Linked DNA regions of Homo sapiens: region 1 is linked to region 2. The links come from fine-mapping of genetic effects on gene expression. A gene starts in region 2. The other region holds a variant in brackets. All regions are shown on one strand. Distances are between the middles of the regions. Region 1 overlaps C5AR1 (complement C5a receptor 1). Region 2 holds the start of MEIS3 (Meis homeobox 3).

Evidence for each region.
Region 1: its variant is fine-mapped to the expression of MEIS3 in whole blood (TOPMed, PIP 0.93).

Annotation. Positions count from the first base shown.
Region 1 is chr19:47,315,478-47,323,802 of GRCh38, forward strand. It overlaps C5AR1 (complement C5a receptor 1), which reads left to right. Exons shown (of 2, transcript NM_001736.4): 2 at 4,304-6,589. The coding sequence ends at 5,353. Among named protein-coding and RNA genes, the nearest start is that of C5AR1, 9.8 kb to the left of the region's middle. RefSeq lists an enhancer at 1-189. The variant G/A (reference allele first, on the strand shown) is at 4,121.
Region 2 is chr19:47,415,155-47,423,479 of GRCh38, forward strand. MEIS3 (Meis homeobox 3) reads right to left here and starts at 4,373. Exons shown (of 13, transcript NM_001301059.2): 1 at 3,916-4,373; 2 at 2,024-2,196; 3 at 1,650-1,809; 4 at 1,498-1,548. The coding sequence starts at 3,927. RefSeq lists enhancers at 2,467-3,459, 3,460-4,453.

The DNA.
Region 1 (8,325 bases), 100 kb before region 2:
GAGGGTGGGGAGGCTCCCCTTACGAGGGTCTGAGTCATTCTGCAGTCAAGGATTGCTGGGAGCTTGCGAAACCAGCAGAGGCAAAATTTACCTTCATGCGTCACAGCCAAAGGGAACATTCAAAATATTTAACAATGTGCTAAAGTGCAGAGGTCCCCTGGGCAGGGTCTAGGGCCTCCTGCTGCACCTAGCATTAACTCTTTAGTGACATGAACATGGCGACCTGGAGTGGGGGTGTCCCAGAGTAGGAAACAGGAACTTAGGGTGCTGGGAGCGGGCAATAGAAGAAGTGGGTGGCTGAGGGCAGGGGCTGTTTACCAGTGAAAATATTTTTAAAAATGTTAACCTTCTATTTGGAAATATTTTCAAACTTACGGAAAAATGACAAGAATGGAACAGGCTCATATACATATACATTTTACCTAGACTCTCCAAATTTACTGTATCTGTCTCTCCATTATCCATCCATCCATCCATCCATCTGTCCATCGATTCATCCATCCATCCATCCATCCATCCATCCGTTATCTAGCTATTTTTTTTTTTTAGACAGAGTCTTGTTCTGTTGCCCAGGCTGGAGGGCAGTGGCGCAATCTTGACTCACTGCAACCTCCACCTCCCAGGTTCAAGCGATTCTCCTGCCTCAGCCTCCCAAGTAGCTGGGACTACAGGCACACACCACTGGGCCCAGCTAATTTTTTTGTACTTTTAGTGGAGATGGGGTTTCACTATGTTGGCCAGGCTGGTCTTGATCTTCTGGCCTCAAGTGATTACAGGCATGAGCCACCATGCCCAGCCCATTATCTATGTATCTATCATCTATCTATCTATCATCTATCTCTCAATCATATCTCCATGTATCCATTGTCTGTCCATCAGTCATCTATCTGTCCATCATCCATGCATCCACTCATTCACCCATTCGTTATCTATCCATCCGTTTATTTATATCCATCCATCTTTCTATCACCTTTTTTTTTTTTTGAGACAGAGTCTTGCTCAGTCAAGGCTGGAGTGCATTGGCATGATCTCAGCTTACTGCAACCTCCGCCTCCCAGGTTCAAGTGATTCTCCTGCCTCAGTCTCTGGAGTAGCTGGGATTACAGGTGCGCGCCAACACTCTGGCTAATTTTTGTATTTTTAATGGCCTTTTGTGACTGGCTTCTTTCACTTAGCATCATGTTTTCAAGATTCATCCACATTGCAGCATGTGTCAGCACTTCCTTTTCATAGCTGAGTAATATTCCACCACGTGGCTAAACCCCACCTTTTTCATTCACTCATTAGCAGATACTGACATCTTATCTTTCAATAATTTACTCATGGATATGATTCCACCAGTAAATGCCCACTGCCCATAGCCTGGCTAACCTTGGGCAGGTGCAATGTAAGGGAACTAGAAAAAAAAAAACAAAACTATCCAGGCATGGTGGCTTACATCTGTAATCTCAGCACTTTGGGAGTTCAAGGCAGGAGGGTTGCTTGAAGTTAGGAGTTTGAGACCAGCCTGTGCAACAAAGCGAGACCCATCTCTACCAAAAAAAAAAAAGAAAAAAAATACAAAAATTAGCTGGGTGTGGTGGTGCACAATTGTAGTCCTAGCTACTCAAGAGGCTGAGGCAGGAGGATTGCTTGAGCCAGAGGGGCTGGGGTGACAGTGATCCATGATTGCACCACTGCACATAAGCCTGGGTGACAGATCAAGACCCCGTCTCAAAAAAAAAAAAAAAAAAAAAATATAAAACGGGGCTGGGCGTGGTGGTTCATGCCTGTAATCCCAGCACTTTGGGAGACCAAGGCCGGAGGATTGCTTGAACCCAGGAGTTCGAGACCAGCCTGGGCAATACAGTGAGACCCTCCTCTTTAAAAAAACATTAAAAATTAGCTGGGCACAGTAGTATGCACCTGTAGTCCCAGCTGCTTGGGAGGCTGAGGCAAGAGGATCACTTGAGCCTGAGAAGTCAAGGCTGCAGTGAGCCAAGATCACACCCCTGAGCTACAGCCTGGGTGACAGAGTGAGACTCAGTCTCAAAAAAAAAAAAATATATATATATATATAGTGGTTCAGGGATGTGGATCTGAGCTCTTCAATAACTGACAAATAATAATACCAATGGCTGCCACTTCTTGTCCTCTTCTCTGTGTCAGGCGCTGTGCTAGGTGCTTAGGCATTTTTCATCTTATTTAATCTTTGAGGTGAGTGTTTTAAAGGTAGAAAAACCAGGCCGGGTGTGGTGGCTCATGCCTGTAATCCCAGCATTTTGGGAGGCCAAGGCAGGCAGATCACGAGGTCAGGAGTTCGAGACCAGCCTGACCAACATGGTGGAACCCTGTCTCTACTAAAAATACAAAAATTAGCAGGGTGTGGTGGCAGGTGCCTTTAGTCCCAGCTACTCAGGAGGCTGAGGCAGGAGAATCGCTTGAACCTGGGAGGCAGAGGTTGCAGTGACCCGAGATCGTGCCACTGCAGTCCAGCGTGGCGACAGAGTGAGACTCCATCTCAAAAAAAAAAAAAAAATGTACAAAACTCCATCTGCAAATTCAAATATTTAGAGCTGCAAATACAGCTCTCAGTATTTCCAGAATGATTTCTATTTCTTGCTGTCCCCTTTTCTCTGGGTTGGTGTCAAAGTGGCCTTCAGGACTGGGCTAGCTCCATAGGTCACAAAACTCACCTCTTGGAAATGGTCAGGGGCAGCCTGTCTGGTTTGCATTCCAGCCCGTATGGGTTCACATCCTCTCTGAGTGACCTGGAACAGCCTACTTCACCTTCTGGTGCCTCGTGCTTCTTCATCAGCGAAATGGGCATTTTTTTTTCTTTCTTTTTTTTTTTTGAGGTGGAGTCTCACTCTGTCGCCCAGGCTGGAGTGCAGTGTCGCTATCTCAGCTCATTGCAACTTCCACCTCCCAGGTTCAAGTGATTCTCCTGCCTCAGCCTCCCGAGTAGCTGGGATTACAGGTGCCCGCCACCACGCCTGGCTAATTTTTGTATTTTTAGTAGAGACGGGGTTTCACCATGTTGGCCAGGCTGGTCTCGAACCCCTGACCTCAGGTGATCTGCCCACCTTGGCTTCCCAAAGTGCTTGGGTTATAGGTGTGCACCACCACACCTGGCCTGAAATGGGCATATTAACAGAACCTCCTTGTAGGTTGTGGTCAGGATGGAAAGAGCAAATTCCATGCCGCATGCATAGTAGGTGCTCAGTAAGTACTGGCTGCTTTCGGGTGATCACTCAGTGCCCTGATGGGTGCTTTACTGCAGTGTCTGGTGCCTCTGGACACAGATTTCACCTACAAGGCTTTCTCCAGTCCAGCTGCCATGGACTGCAGCCTTTCTTTCTTGGGTGCATGACAGCTTCCTTCAGCTCTGTCTGGGAAGAAGTGATCAGGACCTTTTTGTTCTATTTTTTTTTTTTTTTTTTTTTTTAGATGGAGTCTCACTCTGTTACCCAGGCTGGAGTGCAATGGGGCTGTTTCGGCTCACTGCAACCTCTGCCTCCTGGGTTCAAGCAAGTCTTCTGCCTCAGCCTCCCAAGTAGCTGGGATTACAGGCGCCCACTACCACGCCTGGCTAATTTTTGTATTTTTAGTAGAGGCGGGGTTTCACTACATTGGTCAGGCTGATCTTCAACTCCTGACCTCGTGATCCACCCACCTCGGCCTCCCAAAGTGCTGGATTACAGGTGTGAGCCACCGTGCCCGGCCAGTAGGGCTAGACTTTGACGTTAGGCTGCTGGATCGTGGGGAAGCCCAGGGGCTTCGCAGGATGGGACTGAGGGGAGAGGTGGCAGACTGGCAAGGGGTCCAACTAGCATGGAATCATTTCATTTTTTTTTTTTTTTTTTTTTTGAGACAGGGTCTCACTCTGTCACCTAAGCTGGAGTGCAATGGTATGATCTCGGCTCACTCTAACCTCTGCCTCCTGGGGTCAGGTGATCCTCCTACCTCAGCCTCCGGAGTAGCTGGGACTACAGGCAAGTGCAACCACGCCTGGCTAATTTTTGTATTTTCAGTAGAGACGGGGTTTTGCCATGTTGCCCAGGCTATTCTCAAACTCCTGGGCTCAAGCAGTCCGCCCGCCTCGGCCTCCCAAAGTGCTGGGATGACAGGCGTGAGCTAC[G/A]GCATCTGCCTCAATATTTTAATAAGTGGTGTGACACCCTAGTTGACTCTCAGCCCTCAGCATCCCCATTTCCTAGTGAGAAAAAGCCACACAGGGGAAAAGCCACATGCCTGAGCCAGGATGCCCCCTACCCGGGCACATGTCTGCAGACTCATCCTCTCTGCTCTCTCCGATTCCCCTTAGGACTCCTTCAATTATACCACCCCTGATTATGGGCACTATGATGACAAGGATACCCTGGACCTCAACACCCCTGTGGATAAAACTTCTAACACGCTGCGTGTTCCAGACATCCTGGCCTTGGTCATCTTTGCAGTCGTCTTCCTGGTGGGAGTGCTGGGCAATGCCCTGGTGGTCTGGGTGACGGCATTCGAGGCCAAGCGGACCATCAATGCCATCTGGTTCCTCAACTTGGCGGTAGCCGACTTCCTCTCCTGCCTGGCGCTGCCCATCTTGTTCACGTCCATTGTACAGCATCACCACTGGCCCTTTGGCGGGGCCGCCTGCAGCATCCTGCCCTCCCTCATCCTGCTCAACATGTACGCCAGCATCCTGCTCCTGGCCACCATCAGCGCCGACCGCTTTCTGCTGGTGTTTAAACCCATCTGGTGCCAGAACTTCCGAGGGGCTGGCTTGGCCTGGATCGCCTGTGCCGTGGCTTGGGGTTTAGCCCTGCTGCTGACCATACCCTCCTTCCTGTACCGGGTGGTCCGGGAGGAGTACTTTCCACCAAAGGTGTTGTGTGGCGTGGACTACAGCCACGACAAACGGCGGGAGCGAGCCGTGGCCATCGTCCGGCTGGTCCTGGGCTTCCTGTGGCCTCTACTCACGCTCACGATTTGTTACACTTTCATCCTGCTCCGGACGTGGAGCCGCAGGGCCACGCGGTCCACCAAGACACTCAAGGTGGTGGTGGCAGTGGTGGCCAGTTTCTTTATCTTCTGGTTGCCCTACCAGGTGACGGGGATAATGATGTCCTTCCTGGAGCCATCGTCACCCACCTTCCTGCTGCTGAAGAAGCTGGACTCCCTGTGTGTCTCCTTTGCCTACATCAACTGCTGCATCAACCCCATCATCTACGTGGTGGCCGGCCAGGGCTTCCAGGGCCGACTGCGGAAATCCCTCCCCAGCCTCCTCCGGAACGTGTTGACTGAAGAGTCCGTGGTTAGGGAGAGCAAGTCATTCACGCGCTCCACAGTGGACACTATGGCCCAGAAGACCCAGGCAGTGTAGGCGACAGCCTCATGGGCCACTGTGGCCCGATGTCCCCTTCCTTCCCGGCCATTCTCCCTCTTGTTTTCACTTCACTTTTCGTGGGATGGTGTTACCTTAGCTAACTAACTCTCCTCCATGTTGCCTGTCTTTCCCAGACTTGTCCCTCCTTTTCCAGCGGGACTCTTCTCATCCTTCCTCATTTGCAAGGTGAACACTTCCTTCTAGGGAGCACCCTCCCACCCCCCACCCCCCCCACACACACCATCTTTCCATCCCAGGCTTTTGAAAAACAAACAGAAACCCGTGTATCTGGGATATTTCCATATGGCAATAGGTGTGAACAGGGAACTCAGAATACAGACAAGTAGAAAGATTCTCGCTTAAAAAAAATGTATTTATTTTATGGCAAGTTGGAAAATATGTAACTGGAATCTCAAAAGTTCTTTGGGACAAAACAGAAGTCCATGGAGTTATCTAAGCTCTTGTAAGTGAGTTAATTTAAAAAAGAAAATTAGGCTGAGAGCAGTGGCTCACGCCTGTAATCCCAGAACTTTGGGAGGCTAAGGTGGGTGGATCACCTGAGGTCAAGAGTTCCAGACCAGGCTGGCCAGCATGGTGAAACCCCGTCTGTACTAAAAATACAAAAAATTAACTGGGCATGGTAGTGGGTGCCTGTAATCCCAGCTACTTGGGAGGCTGAGGTGGGAGAATTGCTCGAACTTGGAGGTGGAGGTTGTGGTGAGCCATGATCGCACCACTGCACTCTAGCCTGGGTGACCGAGGGAGGCTCTGTCTCAAAAGCAAAGCAAAAACAAAAACAAAAACACCTAAAAAACCTGCAGTTTTGTTTGTACTTTGTTTTTAAATTATGCTTTCTATTTTGAGATCATTGCAAACTCAACACAATTGTAAGTAATGATACAGAGGGATCTTGTGTACCCTTCACCCAGCCTCCCCCAATGGCAACATCTTGCAAAACTACAATGTAGTCTCATAACCAGGATATTGACATTGATACAGTGAAGATACAGGACATTCTCATCACCACAGGGATCCCCAGGATGCCCACTTCCCTCCACCCCCACACCCCAGCCGTGTCCCTAACCCCTGGCAACCAGGAATCCACTCTCCATTTCTATAATGTTGTCATTTCAAGAATGTTATTCAATGGAATCATATAGTATGTAACCTGTTTTGAGCTTAAAAAAAAAGTATACATGACTTTAATGAGGAAAATAAAAATGAATATTGAAATGTTGTGTTATTTCTAGTGAATAATTGACTTTGCAGTAGGTATTAGTCGATTTTCACACTGCTGATAAAGACATACCCAAGACTGGGAAGAAAAAAGAGATTTAATTGGACTTACAGTTCCACATTGCTGGGGAGGTCTCACAGTCATGGCAGGAGGCAAAGGCACTACTTACATGGTAGTGGCAAGAGAAAATGAGGAAGAAGCAAAAGTGGAAACTACTGTGAAACCCATCAGATCTTGTGAGACTTATTAACTATCACAAGAATAGCAAGGGAAAGACCGGACCCCATGATTCAATTATCTCCCCCTGGGTCCCTCCCACAACACATGGGAATTCTGAGAGATACAATTCAAATTGAGATTTGGGTGGGGAGACAGCCAAACCATATCACAATATTTCTGCTTTGATTGTGTAGTGTGCATGTGCATGGATTATCTAGAAATAGCGTGCAGACCAGCCAGCTGTGGTGGCTCATGCCTGTAATCCCAGCACTTTGGGAGGCTGAGGCAGGCAGATCACCTGAGGTCAGGAGTTTGAGACCAGCCTGGCCAACATGGTGAAACCCCGTCTCTACTAAAAATACCAAAATTAGCTGGTGTGTTGGTGCACACCTGTAATCTAAGCTACTTAGGAGGCTGAGGCAGGAGAATTGCTTGAACCCGGGAGGTGGAGGTTGCAGTGAGCCAAGATCATGCCACTGCACTCCAGCCTAGAGTGAGACTCTGTCTCAAAAAAAAAAAAAAAAATTAAATTTAGAACTAGTGTACAGACCCAATGTCGTCCAACAGAAATATGATGTGGGCCACATGTATATCTTTGTTTTCTAGTAGCCACATTAAATAAGTAAAAAGAAATAGATGAAATACTTAATAATATAATACAATCATATGTTATATTAAGAACAATGAGGCTTATGTCTGTAATCCCAGCACTTTGGGAGGCCAGCCTGGGCAACATAGTGAGGCTCCATCTTCAAAAAAATTAGTCTGAGCATGGGGGCTCATGCTTGAAATCCCAGCACTTTGGGAGGCTGAGCTGGGCAGATCACAAAGCCAGGAGTTCGAAATCAGCTTGGCCAACATGGCGAAACCCCATCTCTACTAAAAACACAAAAATTAGCCGGACATGATGATGCACGTCTGTAATCCCAGGTACTCAGGAAGCTAAGGCATGAGAATCACTTGAACCCGGGAGGCAGAGGTTGCAGTGAGCTATGATTGTGGCTCGGCACTCTAGCCTGGGCGACAGAGTGAGACTCTCTCAGAAAAAAAAAAATTTTTTTTTTTAACGAAAAAATTAGCCGGTGTGGTTGGTAGTGCCTGTGGTCCCAGCTACTCGGGATGCCGAGGCTGGAGGATCGCTTGAGCATAGGAGTTTGAGGCTGCAGTGAGTTGTGATGCTGCACTCCAGCTTGGGTGACAGAGCAAGACCCTGTCTCCAAACAAACAAACAAACAAACAAAAAATTGCCTGAGTGTCTCGATGGACAGATGCTGCAGTCTCTTGAGCTTGCAGAAGTGGCTGTGAGTGGTGTCTGTGCCTGCTTGAGAGTAGACGTTGGTACCTGGGACAAGATCCTCTCTGTAACTTGTGCTCATTAGTGCAGATTCCCCAGGCATCGAGGTCACGGGGAAGGACCTGAGCCCCAGCCGCCTTCAGCTCCTGGGGGTGGGCTCCCGGCAGCTCCCTCCTCAAGAAGACAACACCAGCCTCCTGGCCTCCTGGCCTTCTCCCA
Region 2 (8,325 bases):
AGGGAGGAAGAAGGAAGAGGAAGAGAAGGAGGAAGAGGAGACACAGAGAAACAGAAAGAGTGAGACAAAATGACAGGGACAGGGAGATGCAGCAAAGAGAGACAAAGACACCAGGTGCAAGGGGGAAAGAGAGAACAGAGATGCAGCCCAGAATTAAGGAAAGAGCAGATGTTAGATTGAGAGAAGCAAGAGACGAAAAAGGACCCATCACAAGCGGGGAGAGCTAAGGTGAGCCATGCTGACTGGCATTCCCATCCTCTGCCTGTTGGCCCCCAGCTCCAGGCCCCACCCACCTGCAAGCTACATTTCCCAGAACACTTGCCAAAGGGTTTGGCCAATAGGAAGCCCTGGCAAGAGCTTGGGGAGCAAAGGATGGGAGAAGCTGGGTATTCCTCCCTCCTTTCTTCTCTCTCTCTCTCTTTTTTTTTTTTTTTTTTGATATGGAGTCTTGCTCTGTTGCCCAGGCTGGAATGCAGTGGTGTGATCTTGGCTCACTGCAACCTCTGCCTCCCAGGTTCAAGCGATTCTCCTGCCTCAGCCTCCTGAGTAGCTGGGACTACAGGCGTGCACCACTGTGCCCAGCTAATTTTTGTATTTTTAGTAGAGACAGGGTTTCATCATTTGGTCAGGCTGGTCTCGAACTCCTGACCTCAGGTGATCTGCTTGCCTCAGCCTCCCAAAGTGCTGGGATTACAAGCATGAGCCACCGCACCCGGCCCTCTTTTTCTTTCTTTCTTTCTCTTTCTCTAGCTCTCTATGAGAGACAGGGTCTTGCCCTGTTGCCTGGGCTGGTATGCAGTGGAGCTGATCAAGGGTCACTACAGCCTCGACCTCTTGGGGCTCAAGCGATCCTCCCGCCTCAGCCTCCAAAGTAGCTGAGACCACAGGTGCATGCCACCACACCCCGCTAATTAAATGTTTTTGTAGAGGTGGGGTCTCGCTACGTTGCCCAGGCTGGTCTCGATCCCTGGCCTCAAGCTATCTCCTGGCCTTGGCCTCCCAAAGTGCTGGCATTACAGGCGTGAGCTGCCGCACCCAGCCTCCTCTCCTTGGGCAGCAGTCCCTGCGCTCACTTTGGCATAGGTGCTGATCTTCTGACGGATGGAACATCAGACACTTTTTGAGCCCTATTCTGTGCCAGGTGCTGTTCCACGCACTTGAATCGCATTCACTCATTAAACCCCCACAGCAGCCCTCCAAGACAGACATTACTACCAGCCACACTTCACAGACGGGACACCAAGGCACGGAGATGCAGAGTGACTTGCCCTGGGTCACAGAGCTGGTGAGTGGCAGAGCTGGGATTTGAACTCGGGCCATGGGTCCCGTTCTCAGACTCTAGGCTGTACCACACGGCACGTGGGCAACAATCATGACGGTTTGGGGACATGGACCAGGTGGCCTTCTCTCTGCACCCCCCCCACCAACCCCAGGGATGGGGCGTCAGGGAAGGAGACCCATTGGAGGAGGGGGTGTGGGGGAGGGCTCGGGTCTCACCAGATTGTCCAGTTCTGGGTTGGAGGAGAAGAGGGGCCTCTCAGAGCGAACCTGGGAGGGAAGAGAGAGGCCGGCAGGGGGATGTCCCGCCTTCCACCCACCCCTCCTCGCTGGCTCTCTGACTCGGTGTGTGGTGGGTGGGAGGTGCCCACCTGCTTGGCAAAGGCAGCGATGTCCTCGTTGAAGGAATCAGAGGAGCAGACGTCACCTCCAGGGGGTGTCCCCAGCCCAGCTCCGGCCCCGTCACGGGGAGAGCATGTAGCCAGTTCACATTTCTCAAAGACCAGGGCCAAGAGGGGGAAGAGCGGGTGTCTGGGGAGGCAGGAAAGGAGAGAGGTTGAGGGAGAGGCTGGGAGGTGGATGGAGGGGCTGCCAAGATGCAGAACAGCTGGGGAGGGGACAAGAGACCCAGAGAGGGAAGGAGACAGAGACTCGTACACAGAGAGAGACAGAAGCAGACCCAGGGAGCAAAGAAGCAGAAAGACAGAGAGAGAGAGACAGGAGCCTGAGACCCGGCCCCACTCACCCATAGATCTCATCCTTCTCCCTCTTCAGGCCGTCGCTGTCCAAGCCTGGGGGCAGGGGCTGGGGAGGCCGGTGCGGGCCATAGGGCCCTGGTACTGCGGGCACTGTCTCTGGGAAGCTAGCCAGGGCTGCGGGGCCATCCACGATGCCTGGGTAGTGCGGCAGCTCATCATACTGGGGGAAGGTGAGAAGAGAAGGGCGGAGCCCCAGGGAGGGGTCAGCACCCCGAGACTCGGCTGAGGAGCTTCTCTATCCTGGAACCCAGGAGATGCCCTTCTGTGTCCCAGAAACCTGCCTGTGGTCCCCAGGTGTCTGAGCCCCCAAGCTTGAAGCCCTCCAGGTCCCCTGGAGCTGCCTCGGTGGGGAGTGAGGACCCCGTCCAGGCAGAGATTCCTGACATGTGGGCAGGAGGACCCAGAGGGAGAGACGGCAGGGTCTGGCTGGGAGGGAAAAGAGATGGAGAAAGTGGCGTGAGAAGACAGTGACAGAGACAGAGAGAGAGACAGACAGAGAGGGAGATCCATGGACACCTCCTGTAGGAACCGCGCATTGTTGTACACAAAGTACACATACGAAGCCTCCCTGTCTTCTATTTCATTTCACAGTTGGCAGATAAGCGCATCAGAGTAAGTCTCAACAACATGTCACACTCCACTCGCCACGTGAATCTACCACACATGTAGACACAGCCATACACACCAACCCACGTGCACACTCATGTGTCAGTCACACCCAAATCCCCCCCCCCACACACACATGCACACACACATGCACACAGCCCAACACCAGGCACAAGAATGAATGCATGATTGAGACATTTGGCACATGGATGAATGAATGAATGAGGCATTTAGCACAGGGCCTGGCTCATGCTGTGAGCACTTGTTGCCGGAGAGGGTCACTCCGCACCACCATACAGACACGATTGCGCACCCAAGAGAAACACCATTATGGGGTAGGACGACCGCGTCCTGTCGTCACAGAACCATGCACCTGGGAAGCCAGGGGCACCTTCCTCTCATCAGGTCAAATCCCTTCCTCAGTGATGAAGACACGGAGGCTCAAAGAGGCAGCAGGACTCGCACGGGAAGAGGCTAGAACGTTCCTGCCTCGGACCCTCGCCTGGCTGGGCACCCTGGTTCTGTGTGTCCCACTCTTTCCCTCTCCCTCTTCTCCTAACTTCTCCTGTGCCCTGAAGTTGAATCCAACTGCTCCCCGCTGCTCAAGGCACTCTCACCAAAAGCGGTCCTCACAGCCTACCCGGAACCCCCAAAACGGGCGCGCGCCTCCTCCCCTGTCTTCTATCCCCGTTCCCATCCCCAGGGAGACAGGCTCCGTGGGGCCAGCAGCCTGGTGAGACCACCTCTCCCACCCCTGTCCCACTCCTAGCCCTGGAGAGGCAGGGGCGGCTTGGAACAAAAGTAGAGCGAAGGGAAGGACGGAGGAGAGCAGAAAAAAGGGGGGACGGTGAGGTGCGGGCGGCTGAGATGGAGGAGGAAGCCCAGGAACAGAGGAGAGAGACTGCGGGTGGGGGAGGGCAGAGAGAGGGGGATAGAGAGGCAGAAAGAGGGGGGAGACCAGGGACAGAGAGAGGGGGACAGAGAGGCAGAAAGGAGGAGGAGAGTGGGGCAGACAGAGGGGGACAGAGGGGCAGGGAGAAGGAGAAGCTAAACGATGGGGAGGAGGCGAGGCCGAGGGCCAGGAAGAGACACTTGGGGGCAGAGAGGGGGCACACAGGGACTGGGAGACCCAGGGGCGGAGGGAGGGGCAGAGAGAGAGCGAGGTGGTGTAGAGGACGGATGGGCTAATGGGGGCCAGCGCCGGAGAGTGGGGGATGCAGGGACAGGGGGTGCGGAAGCGGCCGGGACGCGGGGTCCCCGCCCCGAGACCTACCCTCCGGGCCATGGGCTGAGGCCGGCGGCAGCTCCTGGGTCCCTCCAGAGCCTGGCCGCGGGGGAGGGCGCAGCCCGGGGCCGCAGCCCCTGACGGCCCGCGGTGTTGACGCCAGGGGGTGGGCAGGAGGCCAGGCGCGCGCCCCCCCACCCCCGCCGCCGTCAGCGGCAGGCGCCGGGCCGGGTGGGGACTCCGCGCATGGACCCCGGCCCCCGCCCCCAGCGGGGGTCACGGCCAGGAGCGCATCGCCGCCGGGGCGGGGGCAGCAGGCGCAGGCGGGGCGCCCGAGGCCCCCTCCTCTGGGCCCCCCCCGTCCCTTCCCCGGCTCTGGAGGGAATCGAACCGTCCCGAGACGGACACACCGGGGACCGCAGGGGGCGGGGGGCGGCCCGGGGCGACGGAGGGTCCGGCGGCGGCTCAGGGGTGCTGGCAGCCGCGCTCCCCGTTCCCGGTCTCTCCCTTGTCTTGTGGAAATTAAACAGAACCACCAAGGAGCGGGATAGGGGATGAGCCAGAGTGAGCCTGCAGAGCTACAGCACGAGGGATTGGGGTTAGGGCAGCAGCAGCACTTCCGGTGGGAGTCGGGGAGGGGCAGGCTGTGGGGGGAGGAGAGGAAGAGACCGCGGCCCTGGTGCCCCCAGGCCCCTCCTCTCCTACCCAGGGCTGGGGTTCCTGCTCCGGGTTTCTCAGTCTCCCTCTTTCCCAGTCTCTCTCTCCTTGTCTCTCTCTGTCTCCGCTTCTCCCGTCCTTTCTCTCCTCTGGCTCTCTGTTCTCCGAGCCCCCTGGACACACCACGGACCCCCTCCCTGGCCATCTCCAGGGGTCACGTGGGAATCTGGAGTCTGGTCCCACCGTAGGCTCTCCCCTCTCTGAGGCTCGATTCCCCCTCTGCAGGATGGGCAGTGCGCTGGGGGCGGCGGGGGTGGGCTGTGGATAACGGAGAAACAGTTAAGCTAGAGGGTGCCAGGACTCAGGGTCTTGGCTGAGTCTGGGGGTCCCCATGCCGGCGGGCTCTGCCCCCGTGGCTGTCCTGCGGTGAGGCTGGCCGTTTAAGGCAGTCCGAGGGGAAGGGTCTGGAGGCCTTGCCTTTCCTCAAGGCCGGCGCACCCCAGATAGGGGTTTTGGAGCAGAAAATTAATTTAAATCACTTTTTAATTAAAGACACAAGGCCCTTTGGTCTGCTCCACCCCCACCTCACCCTCAGCCAAGACTTGGGGTGAGGGATGCAAGGGTTAGGAGTCTCTGGCTCTATTTGCTTTTTTGGGGGGTGGTGCATGCTAAGGTCCCCTTAGCCCAGGCTGATTCTGAAACCTAGAGGAGCAAGTGCGGCCTCATCTGACGGCCAGTGGTGGGGGGCGTGGACAGAGCAGGAAGGGAGGGAGGGGGCACCTGGGATGGGGATGGGGCCTAACTGGAGTGGGGAGGGAGGTAACTCCAGTGACGGTGTGATTCAGAGAGAGAGAGAGACAGAGACAGACGCGGGTGGGAGGAGAGAGAGAGAGAGGTGCAGACAGAGTGAGACAGACAGGAGGGGGAGGGAGTGGGGGACAGGAGCTCCAATAGAGACCCTGGAGTCGTCCCTGCCACCCCCAAAACAAGAGCAGGGGGCTTGGACTCTGAAGCATAAATCTTTCTAATTAAAGAAAGAGACGAGCTGTTGGGAAGGGAGAAATAAGTGTGTGGGAGAGAAATTGATTGGGGGAGGATGGAGGATGCCGGCGGGGGACGGAGGGAGCAGGGGGGAGGCTCCGGCTTTCTGAGGCTCTTCCTCCAGTCTTTCCCTCTGTCTGTCCATCCGTCTGTCTGTCCGTCTCTGTCTCTCGCTCTCTCTCTCTCTCTCTCACACACACACACACACACACACACACACACTCTCTCTCTCTCTCTCTCTCTCTCTCTCTCTCTTCCTGGCTGTCTCCCTTAAATAGTCCTGGGACCCTTCTGTTCCCAGGGGGAGGGAGCAGGTGGCGGCCAGGCCTGGTGCTGGAGCGGGGGTGCCTGTGTCACTGCGTCGCGGCTGCCTGTCGGCTCTTCGAGGGTGTGCTTGGGCCTCCCTGTGACAGTGTCTGGAAGCGTCTTCCCTGCCCGGCTGAGTGGCTCCCTGGGTGGCATCAGAGTGACCCCAGCTCCCAGTCTGCAGGGGTCTCCGCCCTCTAGCCCTGTCCTGCACCTGTTTTACAGACGGGAAGCGTGGAGCCCTCTATGAGTAGATCTGGGGGACCTCATGGGTCTCCCCAGCACGGGCTGGGCGATCTCTCAGCGGACTGGCCCTTCAGTGCCCCAACCTGAGCACCGACCACTGGGGCTATGCCCACCAGGCAGCCACGTCCCCCGGGGATCCGCAGTGGTCCCCAGGATCCCCTCTGAAAGCCTACAGGAGCAGACCGAATGAACGAGGATCCACCTTGGGTTCCTCCTGTCCTCTCTCTCGGGCCTGCTAGCCTCCTGCCTCGGTTTCCCCTCTTTATCAACCGCTCTGTGTCTGTCTCTCTCCTTCTGGGGGCCCAGGTTTGCTTCCTCCTCCTCATTCCAGGCTCTCTCTGAGAATCTGTGTCTCTGCTCAGGAGGGTGGGGGAAGAAGGGACCCTAAAAGACAGGCCGTCTCTGTCTCCATCTCCGCCTGGGCTATGTCTGTCTGTCTGTCACCTGGGCTGTGTCTGTCTGTCTGTCTCCTGGCTTTTTTTTTTTTTCTTGTATCTCTGTGTCTCTTTGTCTGGATGTCTTCTCTGCCTCATCTTTCTTATCTCTCTTTCTCTCCATCTTTCTCGGTCTCTCTCTCCAGGGGCCTCTGTCTCTTCTCCCTCCTTCCTCTCCCTCTCTCCGCCTCCCTGTCCCCCCCACCGTATCCTCCCTGGGCTTCTGTCTCCCTGGCTCTCTCCCCTCTCCTCCACCCGGGCCCTTCATAAATACATCGCCCCCTTCCCGTCCTCCCGCTGCCTGGCCCAGCTCCAGGAGAAGGAAACATTTATCTTGGTGGGGGCGCCCACCCCTGCGCCCGCCCCTCCGCCCGCTGGCCACGCCATCCATCACCCGAGCCCAGACTCCTGTGGCTCATTCGTCACCGGCCCTGACAAATGCCTGCCGCCCCCTTCCCCTCCCGCCCCACCAAGCAATCATACCATTAGCCACGGCTCAGCGGTGGCGGGAAGGACCCGGCCTGACCCGGGCGGGGGGCGGGGCACAGGCTGCGGCTCCCACCGAGACCCCTCTCTCCCTCTTTTCCTTCCCTTTCTATCTCTCCTCGCCCTCTCCGTCTTTTTTGTTGGAATCTGCTTTCCTCTGCCAGTTTCTCGCTGTGCCTCTGGGTCCTGTCTCCGGTCCGTCCTCCTCCTCATCCTCCTTTTCCTCACCCTCTCTCCTTCTCTCCTTCTGTCTCTGTCTCTCTCTTACTGAGTCTCTTTCCAGTTCTGACTCTGTCTCTGTGTCTCTCTATAACTGTATCTCTCTGTCTCTGCCCGTCTGTCTCTCCCTCTCTGTCTCTCATCTCTCTCTGTCTCTCCCTCTCTGCCTCTCCATCTCTCTCTCTGTCTCTCCACTCTGTCTCTCCCTCTGTCTCTCCCTCTCTGTGTCTCTTCATCTCTCTGTTGCTCCCTCTCTCTCTGTCTCTCCATCTCTGTCTCTCCCTCTCTCTCTGTCTCTCCATCTCTCTGTCTCTCCATCTCTCTCTGTCTCTCCATCTCTGTCTCTCTATCTCTCTCTGTCTCTCCTTCTCTCTCTGTCTCTTCATCTCTGTCTCTCCCTCTCTGTCTCTCCATTTCTTTCTCTGTCTCTCCATCTCTCTGTCTCTACCTCTCTCTCCATCTGTCTCTCCCTCTTGCTCTCTGTCTCTCCATTTCTCTCTGTGTCTCTCCTTCTCTGTCTCTTCATCTCTATCTCTCCCTCTCTGTCTCTCCATTTCTCTCTGTCTCTCTCTTTCTGTCTCTCCCTCTCTCTCCCTCTCTCTCTGTCTCTCCCTCTCTCTCCATCTCTCTCTGTCTCTCCCTCTTGGGGTCTGTCTCTCCATTTCTGTCTGTCTCACCATCTCTCTGTCTCTCCATTTCTCTCTGTCTCTGTCTCTCTCTGTCTCTCCATTTCTCTCTCTGTCCCTCCCTCTCTCTCTGTCTCTCCATCTCTCTCTGTCTCTCCATCTCTCTCTGTCTCTCCCTCTGTCTCTGTGTGTCTCTCTCCCTGTCTCTCCATGTCCCTCTGTCTGCCATGGGCTCTGTCGGCCCAGCCGTGCCTTTTAAATCTCTGGTCTCTGAGAGTACCCTCGGCGTTGGCCTCACTGGCTTTGTGTGCTGGGAATGGGGTGAGGGTCTTGCCCTGGCGCCCTGGGACGCCCGCCCCGCCCCGCTCCCCACCTCGCTCTCCTCCCTGGTGCTGTGTTCTGAGTCTCTGGGCTTCCTCCGTCTGCATCTTCTCTGCATCCTG